Linked DNA regions of Homo sapiens. The protein of the gene in region 2 purifies or fractionates together with the protein of the main gene of each other region. This does not show direct contact. Each region holds a gene or a part of one and is shown on either strand. Other genes may lie near its edges.

Region 1 (3,809 bases), on a different chromosome or scaffold from region 2:
GGGAGCCCCGTTCTAGTTGGGGAAGACCGACGAGATAAGTATCTAGCAGGCAGGGCAAAATGACAGCAGGTGGAGGGCGCCGCGGACCCCCTCATCAACCTCCTGGAGAGCCGCGTGTCCCTCCTGGAGCCCCGATGTCCCCATAGGAGAAGCAGGCATGGTAGCCACTATGAGGATTGGATGAGACAGCGGGGGAAAGGGCGCTCAGCAGCATCCGGGCCGCGTCTGCGCGGTCGCCCCAGTTACTGGGGACAGGGTGGGAGGCGAAAACCGCCTTGCTAGAGAGGGAGCTGGAGGGGAGGGCGGCGGGGCGGGCGCTGGAGAGCTGGAAACAGCGCGGCTTCCCCCGGCCGCCCGCAGGTGGGGCTCCCTGAGGACACGGTGAAGCGCTGTGTGCAGCAGCTGGGCCTGGCGCTGGACTTCATGCACGGGCGGCAGCTGGTGCACCGCGACATCAAGCCCGAGAACGTGCTGCTGTTCGACCGCGAGTGCCGCCGCGTAAAGCTGGCCGACTTCGGCATGACGCGCCGCGTGGGCTGCCGCGTCAAGCGCGTGAGCGGCACCATCCCTTACACGGCGCCTGAGGTGTGCCAGGCGGGCCGCGCCGACGGGCTGGCGGTGGACACGGGCGTGGACGTGTGGGCCTTCGGCGTGCTCATCTTCTGCGTGCTCACCGGCAACTTCCCGTGGGAGGCGGCGTCGGGCGCCGACGCCTTCTTCGAGGAGTTCGTGCGCTGGCAGCGGGGCCGCCTGCCGGGGCTGCCTTCGCAGTGGCGCCGCTTCACCGAGCCCGCGCTGCGCATGTTCCAGCGCTTACTGGCCCTGGAGCCCGAGCGCCGCGGCCCAGCCAAGGAGGTGTTCCGCTTCCTCAAGCACGAGCTCACGTCCGAGCTGCGCCGCCGGCCCTCGCACCGCGCGCGCAAGCCCCCCGGGGACCGCCCGCCCGCCGCCGGGCCACTGCGCCTCGAGGCGCCTGGGCCGCTCAAGCGGACGGTGCTGACCGAGAGCGGCAGCGGCTCCCGGCCCGCGCCCCCCGCCGTCGGGTCGGTGCCCTTGCCCGTGCCGGTGCCGGTGCCAGTGCCCGTGCCGGTGCCTGTGCCCGAGCCCGGCCTAGCTCCCCAGGGGCCCCCCGGCCGGACCGACGGCCGCGCGGACAAGAGCAAAGGGCAGGTGGTGCTGGCCACGGCCATCGAGATCTGCGTCTGAGTCGCCTCCGCCGCCCTCGGACCCGGGAGCAGCCCGGGCCCGCCCCGAGCCGGTGCCCGGTGCGGCGGTAGGGAATGGAGCCACCTCGCCGCGGGGCAGGGGGCGCAGCGGTAGACTAGGCAGGACGCGGCCCGGCACCTGGTCCGTCCCCGGCGGGCTGGTGAGGGGGCCACCAAAGACCCCTAGCGCGGCCTGGTGAGCGGGGGCTTGGCCCAGAGGAGCCAAGCCGCACAGACCCGAGAATTCGGAGGCCACCACACAACACACACACACACACACACACACACACACACACACACACACACACACACACACACGCCAGGAGCAAGGGAGCTTTCGGGCCACACTCCCAGACGCCTCCCTGAGCCCTGGAACCCGGACTCGTTGCTCCTGGCCTTCCATACCCCCTGGCAGATCATCCTGCGGTCCCACCCCAGATCCCCTCCTCCTCGCCATCCCATTCTGCCCCCTCCCCACCCTGGGTACAGAAAGGGACTGAAGTGTTGGGCAGAGAGGGGGCTTAAGGCCCCTGGGCACAGGCTGGGATCAGGGCAGTGAGCGAAGGGCAGCTGTGTCCTGCCCTCCCTTCTGGAGGCTGGAGGGGAGAGGCCAAGCCCTTGGAAAATGTAGCAAATGTCTGGATGTCGCATAAGTGCGTGTATGTGCGGGACAGGCCCCGAGAAGCTAGTGACTCCTGCACACCCCCATTGCACAAATGAAATCACAGCCCAGGAGGGAGGGTAGCTTGGCACTGGCTGAGAAATAGAGCTCTCTCCCCGCCCCTCCCCCTAACCACAAGGGATTGTCCTGACAACTTGTGGGGATAGAAGGGCTCACAGGGCAGGGGTCTCAGCTGCCCCCATCCTTAGGGCAGGGGAGTTAGTGTGGAGCCGAGAGCAGGTCCCAGCTCCCCCTGCCAGCCGCACTGTCCCAGGCCCAGGGACCTCTGCCGGGTCCTCCCAGCCCTTGCCACACAGCCTAGACGTAGTAGCCTGGGCTTCCAGCAGGTGGCGAGCTGGTTCGTGCTGGAAATTTCTCCTGGGTTTCTTGGGGTCAAACATGCCAACCTCCAAGACCCCATCCTCACGTCTCCCACTTTTCTGGCGCTGGAGTGTGCAGGGCGTAGGACCTGCATGTGTGGGTGTGAGAATGGGGGCGGTGGACACCAGGGGGCGAGTGTGTGACTAGGTGTGTGTGCACATGTGTAGGGTGCAGACGCATGGGTGCCATCCTTTGCGTTCAGTGACTGTGCGTCCAGACCCCTCACCAGCGGCCCCCCCACCACACCCTGGTCCTCCCAGGCAGCTGTCCCAGGGCGCCCAGGCCTGCCTTGCACCACAGCCCTCAGGAAATCCGGCAAGGAGGCCCCTGCAGGTTGGTTCAGGCCCCCAGGTAGCAAAACAGAGACAACAGCAGCCCCGCCTGACCCCCTGCCCCTCTCTGTGGAGGCCCGGGACCCCCGCAATAAGCACCACATGGGTGAGGCTGTCCCTGTCAGGGTCCCCTGCCAGGGTCCCTCCTGGGGTTCTGGGCCATTTGAGGGGCTCTTTGATGGGCCAGGCCGGCCAGAGTGAACTCCGAGCACTTTCTGGCTGGTGCCCCAACCTCTCCACTCCCCACTCATTCCCACCTTGAAAAAGGGCTATAGGTCCCCTGCCCTGCCCGGGTCCAGTTTACAAACAGTGTGGGGTGGCCCCAGGGCCTGGCCCCACTCTCCCTGCTGTGCCCACTCCTCTCCAGACTCCACCTCCCCAGTGGGTATGGGCCCTCCACATGCCAGGTAAGTAGCAAACCCCCACTCCCTCCAAGGACCAGGTCTCAGAGAAGGCCCTGGTCACTGCCCCCGGCCCACCTGGAGCCCATCGGGGCTGCCTCTCCCAGCCGCGACTTCTCCTTTTGCCTTAGGCCTCGCGACATCCTGATCTCTCCTGCAATAACTAGGAATCGAGATTCCACAGTAGACGTCCCTTGCCGTGCTCGCTCTCTCTCTCGCGCGCGCTCTCTCTCTCCCTCTCTCTCTCTCTCTCTCTCTCTCTCTCTCTCTCTCTCTCTCTCTCTCCTCTCTTTCTCTCTCTCCCTCTCTCTGTTAAGATCCTGTTCGGGAGTTTCCCCAGCCGTTGTAGTATCTAGTATGTTAGAGTTGGGAGGGGACCATAGTTATGTAGCCCAGCCCCCTCATTCCCAGAGGCACCCAGAGGGCCAGCCTCCAGCCTGACCCCAGAGCAGAACCGGAACACCAGGTTGGGGCCCTGGTGCTGCCACCTCCTCTGCTGGTCGGGCTGGGACCCTTTGCCCCTTAGGAGAGGTGTTGGTCACAGATGTTTACCTCAGTTTATGTCACTGTCGAAGAAACAAAAAATAATAGCAAAAAATAACACTGTAGACATGAAGACTTAGAAGACAAAAAAAAAAAAATCACACAAAAAATCTCCCTTGTTGCGATTCTTCTGTGAAGGTACAGTGTGTATGTGTGTATGTGTGTATGTGTGTGCGTGTCTCTGTCCCAGACCCTGTGTCCCCCACACTGCCCCCTGTCCTTCGGTGCTTCCCAGAGACCCCTCTGAGCTGGCCTGTGGGGCACGGGAAGCCCCCTGGATGGGAGG
Region 2 (2,926 bases):
TGAGGACGATGACATGAATGAGGACACAGTAGAGAGGATTGTTCGCTGCATCATCCAGAATGAAGGTGGGTCTAGCATAGCCCCTTGCTCCCTCTTCTCCAACCTTCTCTTGCCCTGACCTCCACCTCCACTGACTCCCTCTTTTCCTTCTTCCCTCAGCCAATGCTGAGGCCTTGAAGGAGATGCTGGGGGACAGTGAAGGAGAAGGGACAGTGCAGCTGTCCAGGTGAGCTGGAAACAAGGGCCAGCATGACTTAGCTTGCCTTGGAGAGTATCCTCTCCTCCAGCACAATCCTCTCCCAGCCTCCTTGCATGTATGGGGTTGGGGGAAGGGCAAAGCTGGCTAACTTATAGGAAGAAAGTTGTTTTGTAGAAATCGCGATTCCTTCAAACCATCTCTCTCATCTAGATATCATCAAGCCTAACATTCACCTCTAGTGCCACTCCTTTGGGTTAAGCAGTGTTCTTTTTAGCAAACAGCCCTGGGAGGAAGAACATATGGTCACTAACATCTTAATATTGAGTTTATTAGATAAAGACAAGAAAAAATGGGGCTTGGGGAAATTGGGGCTTCTGGGGTTTTAAGGAGCATGCTGAAAGAACGTAAGAAACAAAACATGAAGGGAAATGGAAATGTTACCCTCACTCCCCTCCTCCCTGCTGTCCAGTGTGGATGCCACCTCCAGCCTGCAGGACGGAGCCCCCTCCCATCATCACACAGTGCACCTGGGCTCTGCAGCCCCTTGCCTCCATTGCAGCCGCAGCAAGAGGCCTCCACTTGTCCGTCAGGGACGCTCCAAGGAAGGAAAAAGCCGCCCCCGGACAGGGGAGACCACTGTGTTCTCTGTGGGCAGGTGGGGCAGGTGCTCCAGGGAAAGGGGGGCTGAGGTAGGGGGCCCAGTGATCAGGCACCTGATCCCAAAAGTGGGCCTTGGCTCTTTCCTCCTGGACTGGGAGCTCCGGCAGAAGTCAGGCTACACAATGTGCCCCACAATCTGAGAAGGCCTCCCCTACCTTAGGCCAGAGGGAAGTAGCCACCAAACTCAGGATGTCCCTGGTCAGAGGGGAGGGCCAAGCAGCCTCTGAGTTGTGGTCCTAAACCCCAGTGTTCCCTCCCCTCCCAGGTTCCGGGTGACACACATTGAGAAGCGCTATGGACTGCACGAACACCGTGATGGCTCCCCCACAGACAGGAGCTGGGGCTCTGGTGGGGGACAGGACCCAGGGGGTGGTCAGGGGTCTGGGGGAGGGCAGCCCAAGGCAGGGATGCCTGCCATGGAGAGGCTGCCCCCTGAGAGGCCACAGCCCCAGGTCCTAGCCAGCCCCCCAGTACAGAATGGAGGACTCAGGGACAGCAGCCTAACCCCTCGTGCACTTGAAGGGAACCCCAGAGCTTCTGCAGAGCCAACACTGAGGGCCGGAGGGAGGGGCCCAAGCCCAGGGCTGCCCACTCAAGAGGCAAATGGGCAGCCAAGCAAACCAGACACTTCTGATCACCAGGTAGGAAAACACAGCCGGGACTGCACTGGGCTGGGCTCTTATTGCTCTCTACTCTGGGGGGCACTGATAGGACCTACTCCTGGTCTCTCATTGTTGACCCCTCCCCTTTCTCTCAGGTGTCTCTACCACAGGGAGCAGGGAGTATGTGAGGTGAGTCTGCCTGAGCCCTAAATGAGGTAATCTCATCTTCCCATCACCTACTTAAACTATTTAAGCCTTTCGGCTCCCTGAACCCCCCGAGTAAACTGCAGGCTTAGCCTTTGCTATAAATCCCTTGGTTTGGTGGTGGAGGTAGGGAAGGTCCTGGAGCCCCAGGGGAAAAGCTGGACACAGCTTGAACAGGAAGCAACAGTGTTATTCTTCCTCTTCTCCAAGTCTCCTTCATTGTGCTGATGGACTACCAGCTGGCAGGGCCAGGGGGTGGGTGGGCGTGAAAGCCCTCCCCTCCACTGGACAGCACTGCCCCCCAGCTGAGGGACCAGCTCTACTTCCACCTGGAGTTGCACAGTCTCAGGCTGGGGGCCTCAGGAGAGGTCACAGCCCCTCAGTCTCTTCTCCTTCCCCTGCCTGCAACAGGCTGCCTGCCCCGCCTTCCCCAACACCTCGCTCCATATGATAGAGCGTGGCAGCTGGGAGCAGGCCCCTGCCCGTGGTGGGCCCCTAAAGCAATAGCACCGTAGGCCCCCTGCCCTCTTAGCACAAGAGGCCCAGGCCCTGGCCTGGCCTTCGTGCCCTTTATTCATTGTCAATAAATCCGCTCAGACCATTACAGCTGCTTCGCATCCTGGCTCCAGCTCCTGATTCCCAAGGCCTGTTCCTCTCCCCAGCCCAACCCCAGTGACCCTGGCATCCAGAGTGGGGTGGGTCATGGAGCCAGGGTGGGGAAAGAGGTGGGCCAGAACTACTAGAGACCTTGATGGATGGTTTCCAGCCCCAGAGATTTCAGGCATTTCACCACCCTAGATAGGGTCATGACAGAAGAGAAGGTAGTTCCGGTCCTAGAGATGATAGAACAATGGGAAAAAAAGGAGTGGGTTCCAGCTCTAGAAATGGGAAGGGGCAAGTTTCCACCCTTGGAGGTGAGGGTGGAAATAAGGGCGATTCCAGCTTTTGGCTGTGTTGCTCTGGATCATTGATGGTGTGGTCTGACAGCTTGAAGATAGGGACAGCAGCATCACTGGGGGTCAAGGCTTCCCTGGCCTTCAGGTGAGGGGATCTGGGTGGCCAGGATCCGGGGCTTTAGCCGGCGGGGGAGGTGGTGGACGCATCTGTAGGGAACACACAGTTAGTGCTCCAGAGTTCTCCCTTAAGGGTATCCCTGTCTATTCCCTCAGCCCTGCAGACAAAACAGGACTGGTTGGAATAACCCCTCTACATACAATCTCCTCCAAGGCAAGGGCCCTTACCGGCCTGAGTCGAGGTGCCA

What was found.
Region 1: the proteins of FCHSD1 (region 2) and SBK1 purify together in Homo sapiens (affinity purification with mass spectrometry, with the first as the bait; one study listed by BioGRID). This does not show direct contact.

The regions. Positions count from the first base shown.
Region 1 is NC_000016.10:28,319,716-28,323,524, forward strand, and holds part of SBK1 (serine/threonine-protein kinase SBK1), read left to right. Parts: intron 1-360; coding exon 361-1,206; 3' UTR 1,207-3,809. UniProt on the Homo sapiens protein: May be involved in signal-transduction pathways related to the control of brain development.
Region 2 is NC_000005.10:141,638,796-141,641,721, forward strand, and holds the end of FCHSD1 (F-BAR and double SH3 domains protein 1), read right to left. Parts: coding exon 2,907-2,926; intron 2,769-2,906; coding exon 2,703-2,768; 3' UTR 1,894-2,702; coding exon of another isoform or gene 1,876-1,893; 3' UTR 1,672-1,875; coding exon of another isoform or gene 1,125-1,671; 3' UTR 855-1,124; coding exon of another isoform or gene 669-854; 3' UTR 507-668; downstream 1-506. Other genes in the region: RELL2 (RELT-like protein 2), read left to right, coding at 1-65, 160-226, 669-854, 1,125-1,671.